Linked DNA regions of Homo sapiens. The protein of the gene in region 1 purifies or fractionates together with the protein of each later gene. This does not show direct contact. Each region holds a gene or a part of one and is shown in the gene's direction. Other genes may lie near its edges.

Region 1 (3,500 bases):
CTGTATGAGGAGAAGTGGGCCGGCCTGAGCCTTGCTGTGTCTTAAGTTGCTCTTTACAGTTTAGCTCTCAGGTGTTAGTCAATCTAAACTCTACACTCAGAGGCTAATGGTTATTTAAAATATTGTTAAATTCCTCTTTTCTACTCTGGATTAGCCAAATTGCTTATGTGAACTTGGTCAAGTTTTCCTGTAACATACCTATTAGTATTGGCTCATGCCACATACTGTCTATTGTATGGCTTCCTGTTATCTACTGCCTGTGATGTTGTTTTACTTAAAACTTTATAATGATTTCATTATAGTTGTGGCTCATAAACACTTCAGAACCTAGGAACAGTCAACTAAAATACTATGCTTTGCTTTTGTCCAAGAATTTTGAATGTCACTTATATTTTAGTTCAAACCATACTGCACAGACCTGAAGTTGGCAAGGAATTTTTCCACTGAAATTGTTTTTCACACTTAGGAAATGGATTCATGCTATCTAGGAAACAAATCCCTGGGAAACAGTCTGTGTACCAGGTTGCAAACGATGATTATTTTACCTTGTATTAATGGATACACAGGAAACTTAAAAGATATTTTTAAATCTCTGACCAAATGAAGAATTGGGTTTGTGTATATGTGAGAGAATTAAACTTGTGAATTGTTTTTAAGACAATTTTAAGTGAAAGTAAGACTACAATAATATATGTCATGTAGGCCAGTAAGAGTGGTGCTGAGTGCACCTCTTCTGTCCTTCACAGTTCTTACTGGACGAGGTCTACTGGATTTATCTAAACCTTTTCAAAGCAGATGTCTTGCTATTTTCTTAAAGTTTTTTGCTTTTACACTTTTTTAAAGCTTTAAATTTGTGATGCTATTAGTGTTATTTCATAATACATTGGCATTTTAATAGTTTTTAATGTCACTACTTCTTTTTAGAGTACACATATCTTCAGAATGGTGGTGCCCTGATAGGTGAGCTGTTTTACGCCTTAATGAAAATTAATGAAAGATTCAGTGCTGTACTGAAATCATAAAATGTGAAGAGCATTTACTATCAAAAATCAAGAACTGAGGATGTGATAAAACAGCCATGTTCAATGCAGTTGGTATAAATTGGTCCAAGCTATTTAGAAAGCTATTTAGTAATTTCCATTAAAACTTTTATGCCTTAGTGTTAATTATCGTACTTTCAGCTTCAATACCTCCACTCCTTACAAATCAATTTTTAGGAAGTCTGAAGTATAGTGATTTATATATGTTTATCATGGCATCATGTATTATGTTGAACAAATTGGAAGCTGCCTAAATGTCCTACAATAAGAAAGAAGTTAAGTAAGTTGTCCTGAGTCTGTAAAGGGGTGTTTTATGATAGCTAAAATTATACTTACAAAGAATATAACATGGAACAACTTTAGGTTTTTAAAAGGGGGCAGTATACAAAACTACAGTATGGTCTTAAAGAAAAAAATAACGTATTATAGAAAAAAGACTGGAAAAATCTATACTGGCATTGATCATGGTCTTATCTCTATAATATACATATATTATCTCGCTTTTGTCCCCCAGGCTGTAGTGCGATGGCACAATCTCGGTTCACTGCAACCTCTGCCTCCTGGGTTGAAGTGATTCTCTTGCCTCAGCCCCTGAGTGGCTGGGATTACAGGTGCCTGCCACCACACCCGGCTAATTTTTGTATTTTTAGTAGAGACAGAGTTTCACTATGTTGGCCAGGCTGGTCTTGAACCCCTGACCTCAGGTGATCCGCCCGCCTCACCTCCTAAAGTGCTGGGATTACAGGCGTGAGCCACTGCGCCCAGCCAGAAAATATATTTTTTAATTCACGTATTTTGAGAAGAAAGTACAATTTGAAACCAAGAAGTTTCCTTTCATTATTCTTAAAACGTTTTCAGAAGTAAAATATGTGGTTCTGCTAAAAGCAGTTCTTTTAGTTAAATGTTAAAGGCTGCACCATCTTTGTGTTTTTTAAACATAAATAACTTCTACTTTATTAGTTGTTAAATTAGAAAAAGTCTGTAATTTTACAAAATTCCTAACACTGTGGAAACAGCAAAAGTGATTTAACTCCTATTGAAGTCAGAAGCTTGCTTTTATATTTCCCATCTGATGATTCCAAATGTATACAGTTTTCTCAAAAGTTACCAATTATAATCCTTTTCTGTGTACTTTACAAGTTAAATGAGCAATAATTTAAAAAAATCATAATTTGCATCGAGTTGGTACCATCAAAATGATTTGAATTTGGTGAGGAACAAACTTGTTACTATTGTTTCACATTCATAGAAGGGAAATCTGGAATGAGCGAGTGCATTTTAATCAATATATGAAGACTGAATATGTAAAAATGACATAAATATAACTAAAAAATTATTTTATTGCCCTAACACTGACAAAATTACCTTGTTCTGGCAATTATCAGTGGGATTTTTAAAAGAAAACACTGCTGACTTTTCAAATAGTTATTTTACATGTTAAAAGAGGCCTTTATGTTTCTATTACAGATATTCGAGATATTTGGACCTGTTGCACATCCATTTTATGTGTTACGGTTTAATTCTTCAGATCACATTGAGAGTAAAGGTATTAAAATAAAGGAGACTATGTATTTTGCTCCATCAATGAAAGATTTCACTCAATATATATTCACAGAAAAACTAAAACAGTAAGTACTTTACCGGCATGTTGTTCTTCACTTACCTAACGTTTATATTTTAAGAATAATTCTCAGTGATGTAATTTCTTACAGTTATATTGTGTGTGTCTTGCAAAGAGTTCATTTATCTTCCTAATAATATCTTTGAAGCCTACAATTTATTTTCAGATTTTGTACGTAGAATTCATATCTTTTGTAAAAAATGAGATGATCAGCCATTAAGAGCACATTTGAGCCATGTACACTTTCTGATTCTAGTTCAGTGTTTTTTCCATTATGTACATTCTTTAATGTACTTACTATTTTAGTATTAGTACTAATATTATTATCATTTCTTAATAACTTTTTTTTCAGTTAAGTAAAATTCTCTTTGGATTCTATTTAGGGGCCTTGCTCTTCAATAAAACTTTAAAATAGTTTTCAAGAGAAAAAAAATGAGTGTTATCTCTTTATTTTGCTTATAAATTTTAAGTTTGTAGAAGAGACAACTAACACGTGTCCCTGAAAAATTGTGTAGAAAGTTACGGTGTATGGAGTTGACCTAACCAACAAACCAGTGCTCTCCATTTTGTCTATCAATAATGCTAAGTGATTTCTGTGGCATGTGACCGCAATATTTTTTTATATTTGTGCTCCCATTGGTTGAATATTTTTCAAATGTTAGCTGTTGCCAGCTGTTAGTTGTAGAGCTGTTTGTATCAGCTAAACTTGTTATAATTATGTTATTTAATTTTTTATATCAGCAAATAGCATATGAATTTAAGATTTTTTTTTAATAAAAATAACTTGAATGCTTTCGAATGATGTAATGAATATGAGCCACTAAAAATATTTTCAAATT
Region 2 (3,388 bases), on another chromosome or scaffold:
GAGACAAGGTCTCACTATGTTGCTCAGGCTGGTCTTGAACTTTTGGCCTTGAGTAATCCTCCCACCTTGGCCTCCTAAAGTGCTGAGATTACAGGCATGACCCACTGCCCCCAGTCCCCATTTTCTTTAAAAGGCCTGAACATTTCCTTCCTCGTGTCAGTCCTGAACAATTCACATTTTCAGGGCTCTGCTCACAGGCCTGTGACTTAGCCTGCCTGCCTATGAAACCATTAGCAAATTGGAAATACCTCTTGCACCAGTCAGAAGGGGGATTGGTTTCTCTTATATGCACATACATTGGGTCTACTGCACAAATTACAGGGCTCCAAGTGTCTTATGAGAGCAGGACTTGGGCTGACCATGTCTCTCTGCCCTCACCCATGCTCTGCTCTGATTTCAGATCCTAAGTGTGAACGTGAAGTCCCCAGCCCTGCTGCTGAGCCAGTTGCTGCCCTACATGGAGAACAGGTATGGCAGGGCGGGGGTGGGGACCAGTCGGAGTTGGGGACCTGAGGTGGGCACAGAAATACAGTCGGTAGCACAGCCAGTAGTGGGTAGAGGACAGAAGAGGTCTGGGATCTCCACATCCCTCATCTTCTTGTCCTGCCTCCCCATCTGTGTGGCTGCCATTCCCAATTCCAGTGGCTGCAGGATGAGAGTAGTATTCCAGGGGCCCAGGCATAGCCTCCTTGGCCTTGACATCAGCAGGTTTGGGACAAGGCTATGCTTTAACTCCTTGACCTTGTGGGCTGGTCATTGTCACCTTACCTGCTCTCTGTTCTTACCAACTTAAAACCAATGACAGGGTTAGCCCCATTCCTCTCCATAGGAAAAAGCCTGTCCCAGACCTCTCCTCATGCCTGCGCTTGGTCTCCAGGGACCCTGCCTGTGTTCCAGGTCCTGCAGATCTGACTGTACCCCTCACAGACACACCCTTAGGAACTGGCCAGGGGCTGTCTTCAGTAGAAGGAAAGTTCCTGACTGTCACTTCTGGTCTCCCTTACCCCATCTGCTCCTTAGAGGTTGCTCATTGATAGGCACTCACCATCAGCCTTGGGTGCCTCTTCACAAAGCCCACCCTGCCCTCTCCTTCAAGCACCTGGCAAGAGAGGAAGCAGAAGATAAGGGTTCTGAGCATGGACATCGTATTTATGAGAAATAGGCATGGAATCCTAGCTCTGCCGTGTATTGGCTGGTACTAAACCTTTCTGAGCCTCAGTTTTCTGAACTCTGAGATGGGGACAGTAATAGGACCTGTGTTGCTTCTGTGAGGGTTGCATCATTTAATGAACTCATGATAGTGTCACCATCAGTGGTAAGCTCTTAGCTTCAGCTTCTCTTATGTTTGTCTTGTCTCAGGAGGGGTGCTGTCATCCTGGTCTCTTCCATTGCAGCTTATAATCCAGTAGTGGTAAGTGCTTGGTCCTTGTGCTCCTGAGTGGTATAGGGTGAGGGGCAACTTTGTTCTTTTCCTCAGAGCCTTACAGACAAAGTGCCTGGGACAGACCCCCACCATCCTCCTGCTGCCCTGGGCTGAGCTTGTCTCCATGTGGGTGGGAGGGCTGCTGGGCCTGTGAGATCCCTGTAGGTGAGAAATCCAACTGATGCTTTCCCCCACTCTCCCATATCCTAATCACTCTGTCAATTCCCTTCCCAGGCGCTGGGTGTCTACAATGTCAGCAAGACAGCGCTGCTGGGTCTCACTAGAACACTGGCATTGGAGCTGGCCCCCAAGGACATCCGGGTAAACTGCGTGGTTCCAGGAATTATCAAAACTGACTTCAGCAAAGTGGTGAGGATTGGGTGTGTCTTCCATCTCCCAGTCTGGCTCAGTGGGAACCCTTCCCAGTGAATAAGGGATCAAGGGGTGACTGAATCCTTAGGTCAGCATGCCTATGACTGAGGTCCTCATTGTTCTCTGAACTCAGCCATGGTGCAGTCCATCCATCCTGAAAAGATGCTCCTTCTTTTGAGAAGGGCAAAGCTGCCCTAGGTGTTCTGCCTGGTGGCCTTCCCGGGGCCCTGCCCATCTTGTTTTAGTAGCACTGACTCCTTCATTTCTTCCCTTTGCCCAGTTTCATGGGAATGAGTCTCTCTGGAAGAACTTCAAGGAACATCATCAGCTGCAGAGGCAAGTGGGGTTTGGAGATTTGGTGGTCCATGTGTGGCTAGGCAGGGGCAGTTGAGTCTATTGCAAGAGCAGACCCCTCCCTGTCATCTGGCCATTGTTTTTGCTGAAATCTGGAGTCCACATGGCCCTGGAGGGTGCAAGTAGCCCTGCTGCATCCACCTTGTTCCCCATGGAGCCCACTCCCACCTGTCATCCGTGAGCCCCAGAGCAGCAGAATCAGAGTACAAGATGCTTGACACTGTGTCCTTCTTCCATCCAGGATTGGGGAGTCAGAGGACTGTGCAGGAATCGTGTCCTTCCTGTGCTCTCCAGATGCCAGCTACGTCAACGGGGAGAACATTGCGGTGGCAGGCTACTCCACTCGGCTCTGAGAGGAGTGGGGGCGGCTGCGTAGCTGTGGTCCCAGGCCCAGGAGCCTGAGGGGGTGTCTAGGTGATCATTTGGATCTGGAGGCAGAGTCTGCCATTCTGCCAGACTAGCAATTTGGGGGCTTACTCATGCTAGGCTTGAGGAAGAAGAAAAACGCTTCGGCATTCTCCTTAGGACTTATCTGCTTGTAGATTTGGCTGATCCAATTAACATGTGGGGTTCTTGGTGTGGGTCTGGGGAGCTGAAGGATTTTATGGAGCTGGTGCTTTGGAGGAATCTTAAGGGAAAGGAGTAGAAGCTCAGGCCTTTGAAGGATTTCAGCTCCTCCTCTCTGTAATTTGTGCTTTAAGCATTTTTTTTCCTAAAATAAACTCAAATTTATCCTCAAGTCTGGAAGCATCTGTCAAGGGTAGAGCCCAGGGCAGCATGGTGGGAAGAGGCCTCTACCGCCAGCTGCCCTGAGCTCGTCGCAGACACACAGAGGCGGGAGTGAGTGTGCTGCCTTGCAGAAGGCTTTGTGTGTGCTCCATTATCTGAACTGGGCCTGCTGGGGGCTCAGCAAGGTGGTGGTGGGTGACAGTGGAAAGATTCTGGGGTTCTCCCAGGGGTCCTCCAGGCTAATACTTCTTAATGTTTTCTGGGCCACACAGGCCTTTGAGAACCCAGAGAAAACAGTTATACCGAATCTTGTGCATAATTCCAGTTAGAGGAGAGTAGTCAGAGCTGAAGTTCCTCTTGGGGTGAACACATGGCTTTCTCAGAAAAGGCCCTGTGTATTGTCCTGAGTCATATTCGGGGGCACCGCCCTCTGTGTATGCATACTGAGGCTCAGCACAGTGGAGGGGGAACAGTGGTCCTCGAGCCATCCGTGGCCCTGAGCACCACTCT
Region 3 (3,500 bases), on another chromosome or scaffold:
GGCACACACCAGGGAGTGTGTGTGTGTGTGTGTGTGTGTGTGTGTGTGTGTGTATGTGAGAGAGAGAGAGAGAGAGATCAGGGAGAGGGTTGCAATGAATCTCTGGATGGGGTAGGAATAAAGAAACACTTGCCCCTCTCTGGAGAATGCCATGGACAGGGGGCAAGGACGGAGTTGGAGCCACATTGACTTGGAGATTGCCAGGTGAGACCTTCAGGGCAAGCAGACTAGACTTCTGCAGGAAGAGCTCTCGTGACACACAAACCTCCACGGAAGTCCGCCTCCTCAGGAAGGCTGCACCCTGTCCCAGGCAGCCAGAAGCTCTTCTCCGTGGTTACTCAGCCCCACGTGTTCCAGCATGAGAACATACTCACTGTCATGGGGTTCATGCTCCAGGTACCAGCTAAGGTCTATCTTCATATTCCCAGGGCTTAGCAGACACAGGCACTCAAATATGGAATGACGAGTGAACAACTGAGTAACTGAATGGTCAGAATTTTCAAAATGCAGATTTGCTGTTAGGAGTCTTAGGTTTACTTCCATTATGCAAAGTTGGTCTCACCGGATTTCCCCTGATAGTGTTCCCCAGCCTCACATGACTGTACATTATCTAGGACGATATTAAGTACCAACTGAATGCGGGCACTGTTGGGGATATAACTCAGAAAGTTTTACCATGATTCTGCTCTTAAGCAGGTTAGCTGACTGACTTCCATATTCAATTCTGTTCAAGTCTTGAAGCAGAGCTCCAAGGGGAGCCAAATGGGTGGGTAGACAGAATTTCCAGTGGATAGTTTAGGAGCTCCCTTGTCTTGGTGTGAAGTGAGGATCCCTGAGCCACCTGGAGAGTGTTGGAACACAGTGTGGTCATCCAGGAATCAAAGGGAGCCCCATCCTGGTGCTCTGGCTACTGCAAATAATCCTTGTAAGCCGATCTGCTTAGCAGAGTACTAGAAAGGAAAATCCAAAGGGCAAGATAAAAATATATCTGTGGTATTTAACATGGTGGTGGTTGGAGATGTCAGCACGTACGCTGTTACACAGAGTCCGCATGTTACCGGGAAGCCCAACTTGGAGGTTTGTAAATCATATCAGAGTTCCAGCTCTCCTGTTTATTAAATGCATACTGTTGTGCAGGTCATAGATTTTTGAGCCTCAGTTTTCTTACCTCGAATGATTGTGAGGGTTAAATGAGAATCAGGTATGTGCAAACCCTTGCTGTATCATTGCAAGGTGTTCTTCAAAGTGGCAAGTGTTCTGCACCATAGACCAAGGGCATATTCTTTTGCTGTCTATACTCATTTCCAATTATAAGTACCCTCCCACATCCTCTCTCCCACTTGTTGATGGTACCTGTTCTTTGTTCCCCTGCTGCTCTCTGAGGACCAAGCAGGGGATAGTTGGAGACCTAGAATATCGGAACATAGATAGTCACCTTCATACCCCTCTGCCAAAGGCCAGAGATAGCACTCCAAGGGGCAGGGGGACCCAGAAAGATCAAGTGGTCTCAGCGGAGGCTCTCTTTTTTTTGTTGTTTTTTTTGTTTTTTTTTTTGAGACTGAATTTCACTCTTGTTGCCCAGGCTGGAGTGCAGTGGTGCAGTCTCGGCTCACTGCAACCTCCGCCTCCTGGGTTCAAGTGATTCTCCCGTTTCAGCCTCCCGAGTAGCTGGGATTACAGGTGCATGCCACTACACCCCGGTAATTTTTGTATTTTTAGTAGAGACGGGGTTTCATCATATTGGTTAGGCTGGTCTCAAACTCCTGACCTCAGGTGATCTGCCCACCTCAGCCTCCCAAAGTGCTGGGATTACAGGCGTGAGCCACCGCGCGTGGCCAAGGCCCTCTTAAGTACGCTCTGCCCTGGATGGCTGCAGTTGTTCTGGTCTGTATAAAACCTAAGTTCCAGGATTCCTTATACCCAGGGATACCAAGGCCTAGGGGACAAAACCCTGAATGAGGACCTGAGAAACCTGAATCTATACTTTGTTCTTTCACTCATTAGCTCTGCAACCATTAGTAAGTCTCTTGCCCTTTTGGGGGCATCCTCAGTTTCTTCTTTTGTAAACCGAGGAAAAATAGAAAAAGTTCTTGTGTGCCTAAAGCTAAATGTAAGTTATGAGTTACAACTTCTTCCTCTTTCAACAAAGGGCTAGATGGGATGTGGCTAATCACAGGTCCAGGAGAGGGCACAGAAGTCACCTGGCCATGGGGCTTAGTTTCAGCTTTAAGTTCTCATCCTGGAGACCAGAAGTGTGGTGGAACCCAGTGGACTTCTGTATGAGATTATCTTTGATGTTGTGTTCCTTTACCTGACTCCAAAAGAGGATTTTTCGTTTAGGACCTGCTTCTTCAGTGAAAAAGCTTTGCATTAATTTTGTTCTTTTTTTCTCAGTATCCAGCGAGCAGCATTGGTGGTCCTAGAAAATTACTACAAAGATTTCACCATCTATAACCCAAACCTCCTAACAGCCTCCAAATTCCGAGCAGCCAAGCATATGGCCGGGCTGAAAGTCTACAATGTAGATGGTATGTGCCTTGAAAGGGTGTCCGTGGTGCTCACAGGGGCACAGTTGGGTGACTATTTAAGATTCATGGTACGTTTGGTTCGACTTCTTCTCTGGGCCTACCTTTATGGTACATTCTTGTTTCAGAACAATTTCTCTTTTTTATGTAGGCAGACACATGTTTAGAGGAATGTTGATTTACCATCTACCTGTGTTGGAAGCCTGTTCATTTTGGGATTTTATGATTGAAAACAGCAGCGGTGTGTGTTTCCTGCCTTCTGCCAGGATCATCTTATATTGGAAGCTGTTAGGAAAGGGTTGCTTTTCAAAATTGGTGCACATTACCCACAAACTCAGAAAGCTACCTAAATCATTAAGACTAGAAATCTCAGTAGTCCAGGCATCTGGTGAGATACCTGCGGGCACTTCTTACTCGTGGCTAGGAGCCGGAGTTGAGTGGGTGGCAGGAGGCTGGAGGCCAGGCTGGGTAAGTCCAAGCTATGTTTCAGGGTATCACATGGTTAAGTGCAAGAAACAGGATGCGGTGTCATTTCTTCCTGGGTATGTTGGGTGAGGGCAAGAACTTTGCAAACCCTAGGAGAGGATTATATTTTCAACAAGTCAAGTGATTTATATACAGTGTCAGTTTTTGTTGGCAATATCCTTTCAGTTATTTGTTTGTTCATTTTTTTTTGGCTATATGAGGTGTGAGCTCCCTCACGAAGCCTGAAGGATTGATAAATTTCACCTGTGATCTAAAAACTTAGGAAAGATTCCCACTAGTGAAACCAAGTCACCAGCCAAGTAGATCATCCGTAAGAAAGCCTGAAATCTGCCTATGTTTCTGAAAAGTTAAGGTGGTCAGTGGTCAGGGGACAGGACAGGACTTCTGAGTCTGTATTCATTAACGGGTCACGTTGCACACCCTCAAGCATTGGTATTTCCTAGAAAAGTTGTGGCTGCCATGACATTCTAGCATAGCTTGCTTTCCATT
Region 4 (3,500 bases), on another chromosome or scaffold:
TTGCCCCAGCTGGTCTTGAACTCCTCGGCTCAAGTGATCCACCCACCTTGGCCTCCCGAAGTGCTGGGATTACAGGTGTGGGCCACCACACCCAGCCTGACAGTTGTATTTCTTTGTTTTTTGTTTTCTTTTTTTTTTTTTGAGATGGAGTCTCGCTGTGTCACCCAGGCAGGAATGCAGTGGTGCGATCTTTGCTCACTGAAAGCTCTGCCTCCCAGTTCAAGTGATTCTTCTGCCTCAGCCTTCCGAGTAGCTGGGACTACAGGCGCGCACCACCATGCCCGGCTAATTTTTGTATTTTTAGTAGAGACAGGGTTTCACCATATTGGCCAGGCTGGTCTTTAACTCCTGACCTCATGATCGGCCTGTCTCGGCCACCCAAATCGCTGGGATTACAGGCGTCAGCCACTGCGCCCGGCTGACAGTTGTATTTCTATGTAATGGGATTGTTGTATGAAGTTTTCTTTTTTTTTTTTCTTTTGAGACAAGTCTCCCTGTGTCTCCCAGGCTGGAGCGCAGTGGCGCGATCTCGGCTTACTGCAACCTCCACCTCCTGGGTTCAAGTGATTCTCCTGCTTTAGCTTCCCAAGTAGCTGGGGTTAAGGCGTGTGCCACCACGCCTGGCTAATTTTTTGTATTTTTAGCAGAGACAGGGTTTCACCATGTTGGCCAGGCTTGTCTCAAACTCCTGACCTCAGGCTGATCTGCCTGCCTCGGCCTCCCAAAGTGCCAGGATTACAAGCGTGAGCCACCACACCAGGCCTGAAGTTTTCTTTTACCTAAAGTTTATTTAACATTTATTGCATTCTGGCTGGGTGCAGTGGCTCACGCCTGTAATCCCAGCACTTTGGGAGGCCAAGGCGGGCATCCTAGCCAACATGGTGAAACCCCGTCTCTACTTAAAAAAATACAAAAATTAGCTGGGCGTGGTGGCGTGGTCCTGTAGGCCCAGCTACTCGGGAGGCTGAGGCAGGAGAATCACTTGAACCAGGGAGGCGGAGATGGCAGTGAGCCTAGATCGTGCCACTGCACTCTAGCCTGGTGACAGAGCGAGACTCTGTCTCAAAACAACAACAAAACATTTACTGCATTCTAGATTTTGTCTTGGATAACCTTTTTCTCCTTTAATCTCTCAGTTTTGTGGGTGAGTAAACTTTAAATGAAACTCTAAAGTTTTCATTGTATTTGTATTGTAAAATAAGTCCACCTCTTTGTAGTTACTTAATGTTTTACGTTTAAACTACAAAGTATCTTAATCTCTGACGTTTCTCATTAAGCTGTTCTCTAGGTAACATTTCTTTTGCCCTTTTATTATTAATTATATAGTTTCCATCCTTCACTAGGCCCTTAGTTTGTTAATGTTACATGAAGCAAAATGGTCAACTTCAAAATATCTTATTTGTTGCCTTCAGGTTGCAGCAGGAGACTTAAAGCACGTAATTTCTACCCATTAATTGTATGGTACAGGATAATAAAAATTCCAGCAGGCATAGATAGAAATTAGCCTGGCATAGATAATTACTTTTTTTTTTTTTTTTTTTTTTTTTTTTTTGAGACAGAGTCTCACTCTGTTGCCCAGGCTGGAGTACAATGGAGCGATCTCGGCTCAGCACAACCTCCGCCTCCCGGGTTCAGGTGACTCTCCTGCCTCAGCCTCCCCGAGTAGCTGGGACTATAGGCGCGTGCCACCATGCCCGGCTAATTTTTTGTATTTTTAGTAGAGTCGGGGTTTCACTATGTTGGCCAGGCTGGTCTCAAACTCCTGGGCTCAAGCTATCCTCCTGCCTCTGCCTCCCTAAGAGCTGGGATTACAGGTGTGAGCTACCGCACCCAGCCGATAATTACTTTTACATTAGTCTTCAGCAGGGAAAGATCCAGGAATATATTTTAAGCAGTGGAGCAGTGTAGGGATCTTAGACAACATTCTAACCTCTTCAAATTCAGATTTTCCTGTAGTATATTCTCACTAGTTTGTTTGGAAAGAGTTTCCAGAACTATGATTTACTGTTATGTGTAATTATTAAGAAAGGGTTGACCTTGTCATTTAAGGAGTGAAATATCCCTTATTTTCTTTCCTTTGTATATTAATATTTCATAGATATTTATTGTATATGACTTCATTTTATTTGTTGTTTATTTCATTTTAAAAAGACAATTAAATAGCATGCTACTGAAATTACCAGATAATTTCCAGGACTGTGCTTCATTGCTCCCTTGTATGTTAGCACCTTAAATGTGATAGTGCCAATCCTTTGGGTAGTGTCTCAATATTCCAGTGATGAGTAATTTCCTAATAACACCTTTTTGTTTTCAGAGTCTGTAATTCTTCTAAGACTATGTCAGTAGCTTTCCAATAAAGGATATATAGTAACTGAATTCTTAATTTTATTTGAGAAGAAGGCTACTGAACAGCTATAAGGTCTTACGCTTTTTTTTTTCTTTTTTTCTGTTTTTGTTTTTTTTTAAGAGACAGGATCTTACTGTGTTTGTTATGTAGGCTGGAGTGCAGTGGTGCAATTATAGCTCACTGCAACCTCAAACTTTTTGGCCCAAGTAGTCCTCCCATCTCAGCCTCCCAAGTAGCTGGGGTTACAGGCCGGCCCATATCACAGTGCTCAGCTGAGAGTTGTAAAATGTTTAAGGTTTCTCAGATTGTCTCTTGTGTTATTATAGAAACCTTTGGAATTTCCTGCTTTCTTTTTTTCTTCCACTACATGCTTTGGGGATGCACTATATCTTTGGGGATTATTTCTTTGGGATATGGTTATTCAGAAGTACATTGTCATATTAGTGATATGGGAATTTCTTTTTGGTTAGTTCTGGAAGAAACCAGTGATTTCTATAGTTTGGCTGCTTATTTAGATACACCCAAATCATAACAGAATTTCGTGTATGGAACATGATTTTATCAGATATACATCTATCTAAGTAAACAGCACTAATGGTAAGATGTTTCTGGATTTCTGAATTTTTTCATCTTTTTTTTCATTTTCTATTGCTGCTGCACAAATTAGTGGATTTTTGAATAGGGGCTAGCAAGTTGCATAAACATTGAACTTTTACTCAGTATTTTTCATTTCTTCTACTCAGTACTCAGTCATTCTTGTTTTTCCTCCCCTTCCTGGGTCTGGGGCACATTAGTCAGTTCTTCCTTAATTTGCATATCAATTCTCCTATAAAATTTAGTGCTTTCGCCTGTTTTACAAATATGACTGCTTTTTTAAATGAAAATTTAACTATATAGTGTAGGCAGTGGTTACTTCCTTTCACTACGCTCCTGAAAGTCATTGGAGTCAAAAGCTAAGTAAGCTGGATCTGGGCATGTGAACTACCAAGGGACAGTCTAGTCAGTTGGAAACTAAAAGTTACCACAAGCAGGTATTGTGAAGTAAATTGAATACTTAAGAAATAGACACTGACATATTCCTACAAACATAAAAGTGATTAGTTGAATTACCTGGGATGTTACTCTAGATCACAAGTGCTGGTTGAAATCTGTT
Region 5 (3,500 bases), on another chromosome or scaffold:
ATCCATGGCCCGTTAGGAACCTGGCTGCACAACAGGAGGTGAGCGGAGGGCCAGGAGTATTACTGCCTGAGCTCTGGCTCCTGTCAGATCAGATTAGATTCTCATAGGAGCATGAACTTACTGTGAACTGTGCCTGCGAAGGGTCTAGGTTGTGTGCTCCCTATGAGAATCTAAAGCCTGATGATCTGAGGTAGAACAGTTTCATCCCCCAAAACTATCTCTTTACCTCTTTGATCTGTGGAAAAGTTGTCTTCCACAAATCCGGTCTCTGGTGCCAAAAAGTTTGGGAACCACTGATGTAAAGTGAACACCACCTCTGTCAAGAAATGGAGCATTTCCAACACCCGAAGAATACCATCCTGTATTCTTCCATTACTTTGCCCTCTCTCCAGGGTAACCACTATCCTCTGTTTTGCCTGTTTTTACGTTGCATATGTAGATCATACAGTATGTGTTCTTTTTGTCTGGCTGCTTTCACTTAACATTATTTTTGTGAGATTTATTCATATTCTAGCTGAGATTCGTTTGCTTTCATTGCTCTGTAATATTCCATTGTATGAACATACCACATTTTTGGTTCTTTTTTTTTTTTTGCTGTCACGAATAGCGGAGCTATGAATATTCTTTTAGTACATTTGGTATATGTCTTTTGGTACATCTTTGTGGGCATTTTTTCCTATACTTTTTCTTCCCCTAGTTGTACTTAAATCCAATACTTAAAAAAAATTAAAATTTAACACATTCAGGTGCTTCTGAGATTCCTGAGGAAGTAGTTGACGATGAAGAGTTTGATTGGGAAATTGAGCAGACACCCTGTGAAGAGGTATCAGAAAGTGCTTTGAATCCGCAGTGCCACTATGGATTTGGAAACTTACGATCAGGAGTGTTGCAACGGTTACAGGTATGTTGTCTTTCTGAAAGATCTTGATCTATAGGGTTTTTCCATTTGGATATTTTAATTTCAGTTATGCTTACACTTGGTAGTTTTTAAAAATAATATTACAGGAGGTGATTGTATTTAAAGCACTTAGCACAGCTAAAGTACATAGATGTGCATTCCCTTCCATTTCATTGGCTGTTCTGCCTAACTGTACTGCTCTTACAGACACCCCGTGGCTTTCTTTTTTCTCCCCTTTATTCAGTATTCTAGACATGAAGTTTCCCAAGTACAAAGCAGAACTCCTCTCTCATACTTCCTGCAAAGCTTTATGTTTTATACTTCTGAAAAGTGAGATCATGTACTTACGGCATGATGTCTCTTCTTTTCTGTATATAAATGAAATAGAATGTTCCTGGCGAGAATGAGATTGTGTGTTTTGATCAAATTGTCTAATTCTTGGTGTATAGTAGGCACCATTTTCTATTCTCTTTTTTTTTTTTTTTTTGAGACGGAGTCTTACCCTGTCGCCAAGGCTGGAGTGCAGTGCAGTGGCACGATCTCGGCTGATGGCAGCCTCTGCCTCTAGGGTTCAAGCAATTCTTCTGCCTCAGCCTCCTGAGTAGCTGGGATTACAGGTGCCTACCACCACGCCTGGCTAGTTTTTGTATTTTTTGCGGAGATGGGGTTTTACCATGTTGGCCAGGATGGTCTCAAACTCAAGTGATTTGCCTGCCTTGGCCTCCCAAAGTTCTGGGATTATAGGCATGAGCCACTGTGACCAGCCTATTGTTTATTTATTCTTTTTTTTTTTTTTTTTTTTTTTAAGACAGAGTCTCACTTTGCTGGAGTGCAGTGGCACGATCTTGGCTCACTGCAACCTCTGCCTCCCGGGTCCAAGTGATTGTCCTGCCTCAGCCTCCCAAGTAGCTGGGATTACAGGCGCCCATCACCACGCCTGGCTAATTTTTCTATTTTTAGTAGAGATGGAGTTTTGCCATGTTGGCCAAATTAGCCGGATGTGGTGGTGCGTGTAATCCCAGCAGTTTGGGAGGCTGAGGCGGGTGGATCACGAGGTCAGGAGCTCGTGACCATCTTGGCTAACACGGTGAAACCCCATCTCTACTAAAAATACAAAAAATTAGCCAGGCATGGTGGCACCCACCTGTAGTCCCAGCTACTCAGGAGGCTGAGGCAGGAGAATCCCTTGAACCCGGGAAGCAGAGGTTGCAGTGAGCTGAGATCTCGCCACTGCACTCCAGCCTGGGCAACAGTGTGAGACTCTGTCTCAAAGAACAAACACAACAAAACAAAACCTGTTTAGAATGTGGTTTATTATCTTAAGACATATTTGAATTTACGAAGGAGAGGGAAAAGACCTGGGTTCTGGTCCCGCTCCTACCTCTGTTAAGATTTGGGATACCAGGCCAGTTATTTGACCACAAGTAAGTTTTGTCTCCTCTTTGGAAAGTGGAGATAAATTTGCCCACCTACTTTATAAGGCTGTCTTGAAAATTTAAAAAGATAATGCATGTGAAAACTCTTTGGAAAGTGTAGAATGCTGTAAAGACTCCTGCCTTTGAAAAATATAAAATGGTCTCAAAATTCCTTAAAGGGAACAACATTGAGATTTACTTAGGAGCAAATGCTGGTGAAATAGCCTTCCTTCTAAAAACTTAGGTGTTTTTCTGCTGAGTTGTGGTCTGCCCATATTCTCTGCTTGATCACAATCGCTGGTGATCTCAGAGGTAATTAGAGTAGAGTCAGTTTTGTCTGTAGCAGGAACTACAGTGAATGGCCCTCAATTGTTGGCCAAGAGATAGTTTGTGGTCAGGCTGTTTTGGGCTTGCCAATCTAACGCTGTACATGAATGATAATAAATGTCACACAGGCTAAGTATGGATTTTACATTTACATTAGAAGTGCTTCTTTGAGGCCAGGGATTTGTTACTTAATTGTTGCTTCTGTTTACGGAAAATCCTTTTGAAAGATTTCTGACAGGTTGCTGAGATGTTGTAGGAATGCCATAATGTGAGCCTAGAATGAGTGCCTTTTAGGTCAGAAATTCTTGTATCTTGAAAATGTTCACTTAATAATTTAGGTTTTTTTTTTTTTTTAAGCTGCTATACTTTCTTTTTGGATGTCTTAACTAATGTATCAAATACCTAGACATCTATTACTTAGGTTAAAAACATTAAACATTAACCAATATAGTTGACTCCTGTCTAATCCCTTTTTGTTTACATCCCTCTGTTTCCCATCAGAAATAAACCACTGTGGCTGGGTGCAGTGGCTCACACCTGTAATTCCAGCACTTTGGGAGGCTGAGGCAGGCGGGTCAGGAGTTTGAGACCAGTCTAGCCAACATGGCAAAACCCTGTCTCTACTTAAAAATACAAAAATTAGCTGAGCGTGGTGGCGCATGCCTGTAATCCCAGCCATTTTGGAGGCTGGCAGGAGAATCGCTTGAACCCAGGAGGCAGAGGTTGCAGGGAGCCGAGATTGCGCCACTGCACTCCATCCAGTCTGGGTGACAGAGTGAGACTACATCTCAAAAAAATAAAAAAGGAAATGAACCACTGAATTTAATGTTTATTATTCTAAGCTTTTAAAATGGCTTAAT
Region 6 (3,500 bases), on another chromosome or scaffold:
TTTCAGATATCATCACAACTAGTCTGTAAAGGGCCCTTCTCTTTATATATTAGTTCAACAAAATTTGAGTACCTATCATGTGTTAGGCACTCTTCTTGGTGATTGGGATGTTAGAGTAAACGGTGAAGGCTCCTACCCTCATGAAGCCTACAGAATAGTAAAGATAGACAATTAACATAAGTAAATTATAATTTACAGAAGGTGATTATCCTCACTTAGCCCCTTTCTCCACTCCCATTCTCCTCCTCTCCTTGGCAATTGTTGTAATGTGTTTATTATATATTTTTTGTTTTTATAAGTTTTTGCAAATTATGCATTCTTTCCTGTTCATATGTTTTAAGATATATCTAAAAGGCATTTAAGATCTATATCTTATTGTTGCTATGTGAACATTTAGTCCATTGCTTCTAACTACTGCATAATACTCATGTGCATTCCTCACATTTTACTGATTTATTCAGTTTTGAACACCTAACCTATGTAGCCTTGAACTCCCTACCACTACAGATAACACTGCCATGAACATCATTGTATGTGTCCCCTTATGAACCTAGAAGTGTTTCTGGGATACACATCTAGAGTGGAATTGCTGTGTCATGAAGTATGTGTATGTTTAATTTGCCTGAGGAGTATCAGATTGCTCTTCAGAGTGACTACACCAATGTATAGTTGCACCACCAATCCTGTGTCCTCATATCTATGTCAACAATTAGCATTATACAGTTATTAACTTTTACCAGTGTAATAGATGTAAAATGACACTATATTTCTATTTTAACTTGCTCTGGGTCTGAACATCTTTTCATATACATGTTAACCTTTTGGATTTTCTCTTAAAATTTCCTGTTTATATATTTTGCCCAATTCTTGTTGGAATTGTTATCATTTTCCAGTTGGTTTATAGGAGTTAATCAAATCTAGATACAGTAACAACTAGTTGTTGGTTTTAGATGTCACAAATATGTTCTCCCATTTTGACATCTGTCTATTGCTGTTGCTTGACAGAAAGCCTTAACTTTTATATAATTAAGCAGTAAGTGTTTTGCCTTATGTATTAGAGGTCCTTTTCTGTCCTTCTGTTAACTTTTCAGTTTTACTTTTCACATTAAGTCCTTAATTATTAGGCTAATTTTTAGTTCTGGTCTCGGTAGGAATATTACCTCACTTTCTCAGTAAGTCTTTTTTTCTCTACATAGGGAGCTAGTTTTCTGAACACTTTCTACTAATCAATTATTTTTCTCACTAATTTGTGGGATAACCATTACTGATAAGTTTGAGCTTTCTATTTTATTTAATTGGTCATTTATTTGGCCTTTTATCGTTACTATTTTTGATACTGTGACTCTATAGGATGTCATTTATCTGGCAGGACAAGTCTTCAATGTTTATTTTTTCCCTTAGGATTGACTAACCTAAATCTTCAACCTTTATTCTTTCATATATATTTAAAAGTATGCTTATTGAATTTCTTTTTTAAAAGTCCACATGGAATTTTATTTGGGATGCGTGGAATATTATCAGGGGAACCCGCCCCCAATATTTCAATGTAGGTTCTATTTTCCATAAGTGTCCGCTGGCTGAGAAATAAAGAGTACAAAGAAAGGAATTTTACAGCTGGGCCGCCGGGGGTGACAGCACATATCAGTAGGACTCTAATGCTGGCCTGAGCCTCAAACCATCAAGTTTTTTGTTAAGAGTTTCAAAAGGGGAGGGGGTGTAAGAACAGGGAGTAGATCACATGCTTCAAAGTGCAAAGAGCAGAACTACTAATAAGGGTCTAACAAAGATGACATGCTTCTGAGGGAACAGGACAAATGGCAAAAGCAGAACTACTGATAAGGGTCCAATAAAGATCACAAGGGAAAGGGCAAAAGCAGAACTACTGATAAAGGTTTATGTTCAGTGGTGCATGTATTGTCTTGATAAACATCTTAAATAACAGAAAACAGGGTTTGAGAGCAGAGAACCAGTCTGACCACAAATTTACCAGGGTGGAGTTTTTCCCCACCCTAGTAAGCCTGAGGGTACTGCAGGAGACCAGGGCGTATATCAGTCCTTATGTCAACGACATAAGACAGACATTCCCGAAGCGGCTGTTTATAGACCTCCCTCCAGTAGTACATTCCTTTCCCAGGGTATTAATACTAATATTCCTTGCTAGGAAAAAGAATTTAGTGATATCTTCCCTACTTGCACATCCGTTTATAGCCTCTCTGCAAGAAGAAAAATATGGCTCTTTTTGCCCAACCCCGCAGGCAGTCAGACCTTACAGTTGTCTTCCCTTGTTCCCTAAAAATTGCTGTTATTCTGTTCTTTTTCAAGGTGCACTGATTTCATATTGTTCAAACACACGTTTTACAATCAATTTGTACAGTTAACACAATTATCACAGTGGTCCTGAGGTGACATACATCCTCAGCTTACGAAGATAACAGGATTAAGAGAGTAAAGACAGGCATAAGAAATTATAAAAGTATTATTTGGGAACTGATAAATGTCCATATTAAAATGAAATCTTCACAATTTATGTTCCTCTGCCATGGCTCCAGCCGGTCCCTCCGTTCAGGGTCCCTGACTTCCCACAACAGAATATATACACTAATTTGAAGAGGATTGACTTCTTTTTTTTGCTTCACCTTCTAAGTTCAGGAGTACATGTGCAGGATGTGCAGGTTTGTTACATAGATAAATGTGTGTCATGGTGGTTTGCTGCACAGATCATCCTATCACCTATGTATTAATCCCAGCATCCATTAGCTATTCCTCCTGATACTTTCCCTTCCCCCAGGGCCCCTGTCAGGCAGGCCCCAGTGTGTGTTTTCCCCTGCATGTGTCCATGTGTTCTCATCGTTCAGTTCACACTTACAAGTGAGAACATGTGGTGTTTGGTTTCTGTTCCTGCATTAGTTTGCTGAGAATGATGGTTTCCAACTCCATCCATGTCCCTGCAAAGGACATGATCTCATTCTTTTTTATAGCTGCATAGTATTCCATGGTGTATGTGTAGCAAGTTTTCTATATCCAGTTTATCATTGGTGGGCATTTAGGTTGATTCCATGTCTTTGCTATTGTGAATAGTGCTGCAATGAACATATGCTTGCATGTATCTTTATAACAGAATGATTTACATTCCTTTGGGTATACACCCAGTAATGGATTGCTGGGTCAAATGGTATTTCTGCCTCTAGGTCTTTGAGAAATCACCACACTGTCTTCCACAATGGTTGAACCCTACCAACAGTGTAAAAGTGTTCCTTTTTCTCCACAACCTTGCCAGCATCTGTTGTTTTTTAGCTTTAATAATAGCCATTCTGACTGGCATGAGATGGTATCTCATTGTAATCTTGATTTGCATTTCTCTAATGATCAGTGATGTTGAGCTATTTTTTGTTTGTTGGCCACATATATGTCTTCTTTTGAGAACTCTCTGTTCATGTCTTTTGCCCACTTTTTAATGGGGTTGTTTTTTTCTTGTAAATTTGTTTAAGTTACTTATAGAT
Region 7 (3,500 bases), on another chromosome or scaffold:
AAGTATAAAGATAACTAGAGGTTGGGGGGAAGGTGGGAATGAGTTACTGTTTAATGGGTACAGAATTTTTCAGTTTCTGATGATAAAATTGCTCTGGCAATAGATCCTGGTAATGGTTGCATAACATCATAAGAATACTTAATGCTACTGAATAGTACACTTGAAAATGGTTGAAGTGTTATTTTTTATTCTTTTTTTTTTAAATTTTTTGCGACGGAATCTTGCTCTGTCACCCAGGCTGGAATGCAGTAGCACGATCTCGGCTCACTACAACCTCCACCTCCTGTGTTCAAGTGATTCTTCTGCCTCAGCCCTCCAGAGTAGCTGGGACTACAGGTGTGCACCACCATGCCTGGCTAATTTTTGTATTTTTAATAGAGATGGGGTTTCACCATGTTGGCCAGGCTGGTCTTGAACTTCTGACTTCGTGATATGCCTGTCTGCTGGGATTACAGACATGAGCCACCGTGCCCAGCCTGAAGTGTTAAATTTTATGTTGTGTATGTTTTACCACAATAAATCCCTTTAAGTTTTGTTTGTTTGTTTTTAATCTACTACAGCCTTGTTAGATGACTTGGATAAAGAACTAAACAACTACATTATGCGATGTAGAGAATGGTATGGCTGGCATTTCCCTGAATTAGGAAAAATTATTTCAGATAATTTAACATACTGCAAGTGTTTACAGAAAGTTGGTGAGTAATTTGTTCATCCTTTAAGGCATTGAAAGTAAATGAATTTGATTGCATCCTAAAACATGACGTATAGCATTTTGTTAAGCAAGATTCCCAGGGTTTTTGCAATTTCTGTGTATTTGGGAAGTGTAGCAGTTTAGTGTCTTAAATTTAAGAAACAAAATGAATTTTAACTTAGATTTTGATGGCCTATAACATGATATTAGTACCTAATGCTAAATAGCAGTATTGCCGTCTGTACTGTTAATATACAGAGGAACTTGATTGTTGATTGTCGTTAACGTACAGAGGAACTTGATTGATTGATGGTTTACTTGCCTTACGAATTACTGGCCCCAGCTTCAGTATAAAATTGTCTGTGACATTATTATTAGTCCTGTCTTTTTTAAATTTTTGCCACTTATATTCTGTAATAAGTGTTGTGGCATATTTTGTCCTCTTTTTACTCTGATTATTTTTTGGAAGAAGGTGGTGGGGAGACATTTAATGTCTAAACTTAAACCCTTAAATGAGGAAAACTGTTATACTAGGTCAAACTTCTTCATTTTTTTTGTTTTGTTTAGGCATCCTTTTCATTGGCTTTCTACTTTTTCTTTTGACTATTTGCTGGATTTTATATAATTTGTTGAAGAGTGATTCTCCCTCATCCTCTGCAAACATTCCATAGGCGATAGGAAGAACTATGCCTCTGCCAAGCTTTCTGAGTTGCTGCCAGAAGAAGTTGAAGCAGAAGTGAAAGCAGCTGCAGAGATATCAATGGGAACAGAGGTTTCAGAAGAAGATATTTGCAATATTCTGCATCTTTGCACCCAGGTAAATTTTACTCCTGGAGAATCTAGTTGTGGTGTTACCAGCTCTATAGTACTAATTTTTCTGATGGCAATGATGATTTTTACACTTATTGTTGTTCACCTGATAACATAAATATGAGGGTGTTCAGTCACTACCTCATCTGATGCCATCATGATTTGTATACTTAAAAGGGGGAAATACATATTAAAAGGAAGTAATTTACAATCATCGTCTGAATAATGAATTAACCAAAAATCAATTAAGATGGCAGAGAAGGCCAGGCGCGTTGGCTCACGCCTGTAATCCCCGCACTTTGGAAGGCCGAGTCAGGGATTGACCTGAGGTCAGGAGTTCGAGACCAGCCTGACCAATATGATGAAACCCCCATCTCTACTAAAAATGCAAAAATTAGCTGCGCGTGGTGGCGTACACCTGTAATCCCAGCTACTCGGGAGGCTGAGACAGGAGAATCGCTTGAACCAGGGAGGGGGAGGTTGCAGTGAGCCGAGATGGCACCATTGCATCCAGCCTGGGCAACAAGAGCAAAACTCCATCTCAAAAAAAAAAAAAAAAAAAAAAAGGATGGCAGACAATTATGGATTGAGCCTTTTAATTCTGAGTCTTATGTCTATATCTTGTGATTTTTTTTTCTTTCAGATTTGAAGGTAGCCATATAGGAATTAAAAAGAGCATGATACAAATGTTTATTGCTCAGAATCTTTTTTTTTTTTTTTTTTTTTTTTTTTTTTTTTTTTGAGACAGAGTCTCACCCTGTAGCCCAGGCTGGAGTGCAGTGGCACGTTCTCAGGCTCACTGCTACCTCTGCCTCCCAGGTCCCAGTTCAAGCGGTTCTCCTGCCTCAGCCTCCCGAGTAGCTGGGATTACAAGCACGTGCCACCATGCCCAGCTAATTTTTGTATTTTTCATAGAGACGGGGTTTCACCATGTTGGCCAGGATGGTCTTGAACTCCTGACCTCATGATCCACCTGCCTCGACCTCCCAAAGTGCTGGAATTACAGGTGTGAGTCACTGTGCCTGGGCTGCTTAGAATCTTTTAAAAATACAGTTACGCTGACTAAGATTTTCAGGCAGTGGACCAAGTAGTTTACATACATTATATAACGAAGTCCTCATTACAGCCATCTTATAGAAAACTGATGTTAGGATCATGAGGTCAAGAGATAGAGACCATACTGGCCAACATGGTGAAACCCTGTCTCTACTAAAAATACAAAAAATTAGCTGGGCGTGGTGGCGGGCCCCTGTAGTCCCAGCTACTCCAGAGGCTGAGGCAGGAGAATCACTTGAGCCCGGGAGGCGGAGATTGCTGTGAGCTGAGATTGCGCCACTGCGCTCCAGCCTGGGAAAAAAAAAAAAGAAAACTGATGTTAGGCATAGGTGATGTACCCAGTACCCAGGGTTGTGTAGCTGCTCTTTCATAATTGAGGGCTCCAGTGTTTTAGACAGGAATTTTTACTGTTTTTACTCATATGATATTTGTGACTTAACTTTATTCCTTATACTAGGTGATTGAAATCTCTGAATATCGAACCCAGCTCTATGAATATCTACAAAATCGAATGATGGCCATTGCACCCAATGTTACAGTCATGGTTGGGGAATTAGTTGGAGCACGGCTTATTGCTCATGCAGGTGATGGTTTTAATGTAATTTGTAAATATGAGTGTTTGAAGTATTTTCTGGTTAGGATTTTGTTTACATCTTTAAACTACAGCTGTTAAAGAAATTTTAGCTGATAACACAAAAGTAGATGATATGTGGGAGATCACTAAGGGCCAAGTGTTCAATGATGATTTCTATTTGTTTGCCTGATTTCCTTTTGGATAATGAAGGCATCTTTAGTCACTACCTCTTCTGAGACACTTGTGGTCCATTGTTAGAAGTTTGTTAGGGTTAATTAGAACAATCGGATGAATGCAGGAGGATAAAACAGTTAACATTTTCATAATAAAAACTCACTAGACCTAGATTTGAATACAGTTTTAAGAAAT

What was found.
Region 2: the proteins of NAF1 (region 1) and DHRS2 purify together in Homo sapiens (affinity purification with mass spectrometry; one large-scale study listed by BioGRID and IntAct). This does not show direct contact.
Region 3: the proteins of NAF1 (region 1) and VANGL1 purify together in Homo sapiens (affinity purification with mass spectrometry; one large-scale study listed by BioGRID and IntAct). This does not show direct contact.
Region 4: the proteins of NAF1 (region 1) and CHD8 fractionate together in Homo sapiens (co-fractionation; one large-scale study listed by BioGRID). This does not show direct contact.
Region 5: the proteins of NAF1 (region 1) and SHQ1 purify together in Homo sapiens (affinity purification with western blotting; 2 studies listed by BioGRID and IntAct, with this or other methods). This does not show direct contact.
Region 6: the proteins of NAF1 (region 1) and INSL6 purify together in Homo sapiens (co-immunoprecipitation; one large-scale study listed by IntAct). This does not show direct contact.
Region 7: the proteins of NAF1 (region 1) and NOP58 fractionate together in Homo sapiens (co-fractionation; one large-scale study listed by BioGRID). This does not show direct contact.

What each region holds. Positions count from the first base shown.
Region 1 is NC_000004.12:163,139,391-163,142,890, reverse strand, and holds part of NAF1 (H/ACA ribonucleoprotein complex non-core subunit NAF1), read left to right. Parts: intron 1-2,507; coding exon 2,508-2,668; intron 2,669-3,500. UniProt on the Homo sapiens protein: RNA-binding protein required for the maturation of box H/ACA snoRNPs complex and ribosome biogenesis.
Region 2 is NC_000014.9:23,642,752-23,646,139, forward strand, and holds the end of DHRS2 (dehydrogenase/reductase SDR family member 2, mitochondrial), read left to right. Parts: intron 1-400; coding exon 401-468; intron 469-1,359; coding exon 1,360-1,411; intron 1,412-1,657; coding exon 1,658-1,792; coding exon of another isoform or gene 1,793-1,803; intron 1,804-2,075; coding exon 2,076-2,131; intron 2,132-2,390; coding exon 2,391-2,502; coding exon of another isoform or gene 2,503-2,551; 3' UTR 2,552-2,888; downstream 2,889-3,388. UniProt on the Homo sapiens protein: NADPH-dependent oxidoreductase which catalyzes the reduction of dicarbonyl compounds. Displays reductase activity in vitro with 3,4-hexanedione, 2,3-heptanedione and 1-phenyl-1,2-propanedione as substrates.
Region 3 is NC_000001.11:115,679,970-115,683,469, forward strand, and holds part of VANGL1 (vang-like protein 1), read left to right. Parts: intron 1-2,394; coding exon 2,395-2,528; intron 2,529-3,500.
Region 4 is NC_000014.9:21,449,624-21,453,123, reverse strand, and holds part of CHD8 (chromodomain-helicase-DNA-binding protein 8), read left to right. Parts: intron 1-3,500. UniProt on the Homo sapiens protein: ATP-dependent chromatin-remodeling factor, it slides nucleosomes along DNA; nucleosome sliding requires ATP. Acts as a transcription repressor by remodeling chromatin structure and recruiting histone H1 to target genes.
Region 5 is NC_000003.12:72,838,446-72,841,945, reverse strand, and holds part of SHQ1 (protein SHQ1 homolog), read left to right. Parts: intron 1-746; coding exon 747-901; intron 902-3,500. UniProt on the Homo sapiens protein: Required for the quantitative accumulation of H/ACA ribonucleoproteins (RNPs), including telomerase, probably through the stabilization of DKC1, from the time of its synthesis until its association with NOP10, NHP2, and NAF1 at the nascent H/ACA RNA.
Region 6 is NC_000009.12:5,179,140-5,182,639, reverse strand, and holds part of INSL6 (insulin-like peptide INSL6 precursor), read left to right. Parts: intron 1-3,500. UniProt on the Homo sapiens protein: May have a role in sperm development and fertilization.
Region 7 is NC_000002.12:202,289,763-202,293,262, forward strand, and holds part of NOP58 (nucleolar protein 58), read left to right. Parts: intron 1-560; coding exon 561-695; intron 696-1,362; coding exon 1,363-1,508; intron 1,509-1,554; exon of another isoform or gene 1,555-1,666; intron 1,667-3,014; coding exon 3,015-3,141; intron 3,142-3,288; exon of another isoform or gene 3,289-3,372; intron 3,373-3,500. UniProt on the Homo sapiens protein: Required for the biogenesis of box C/D snoRNAs such as U3, U8 and U14 snoRNAs. Part of the small subunit (SSU) processome, first precursor of the small eukaryotic ribosomal subunit.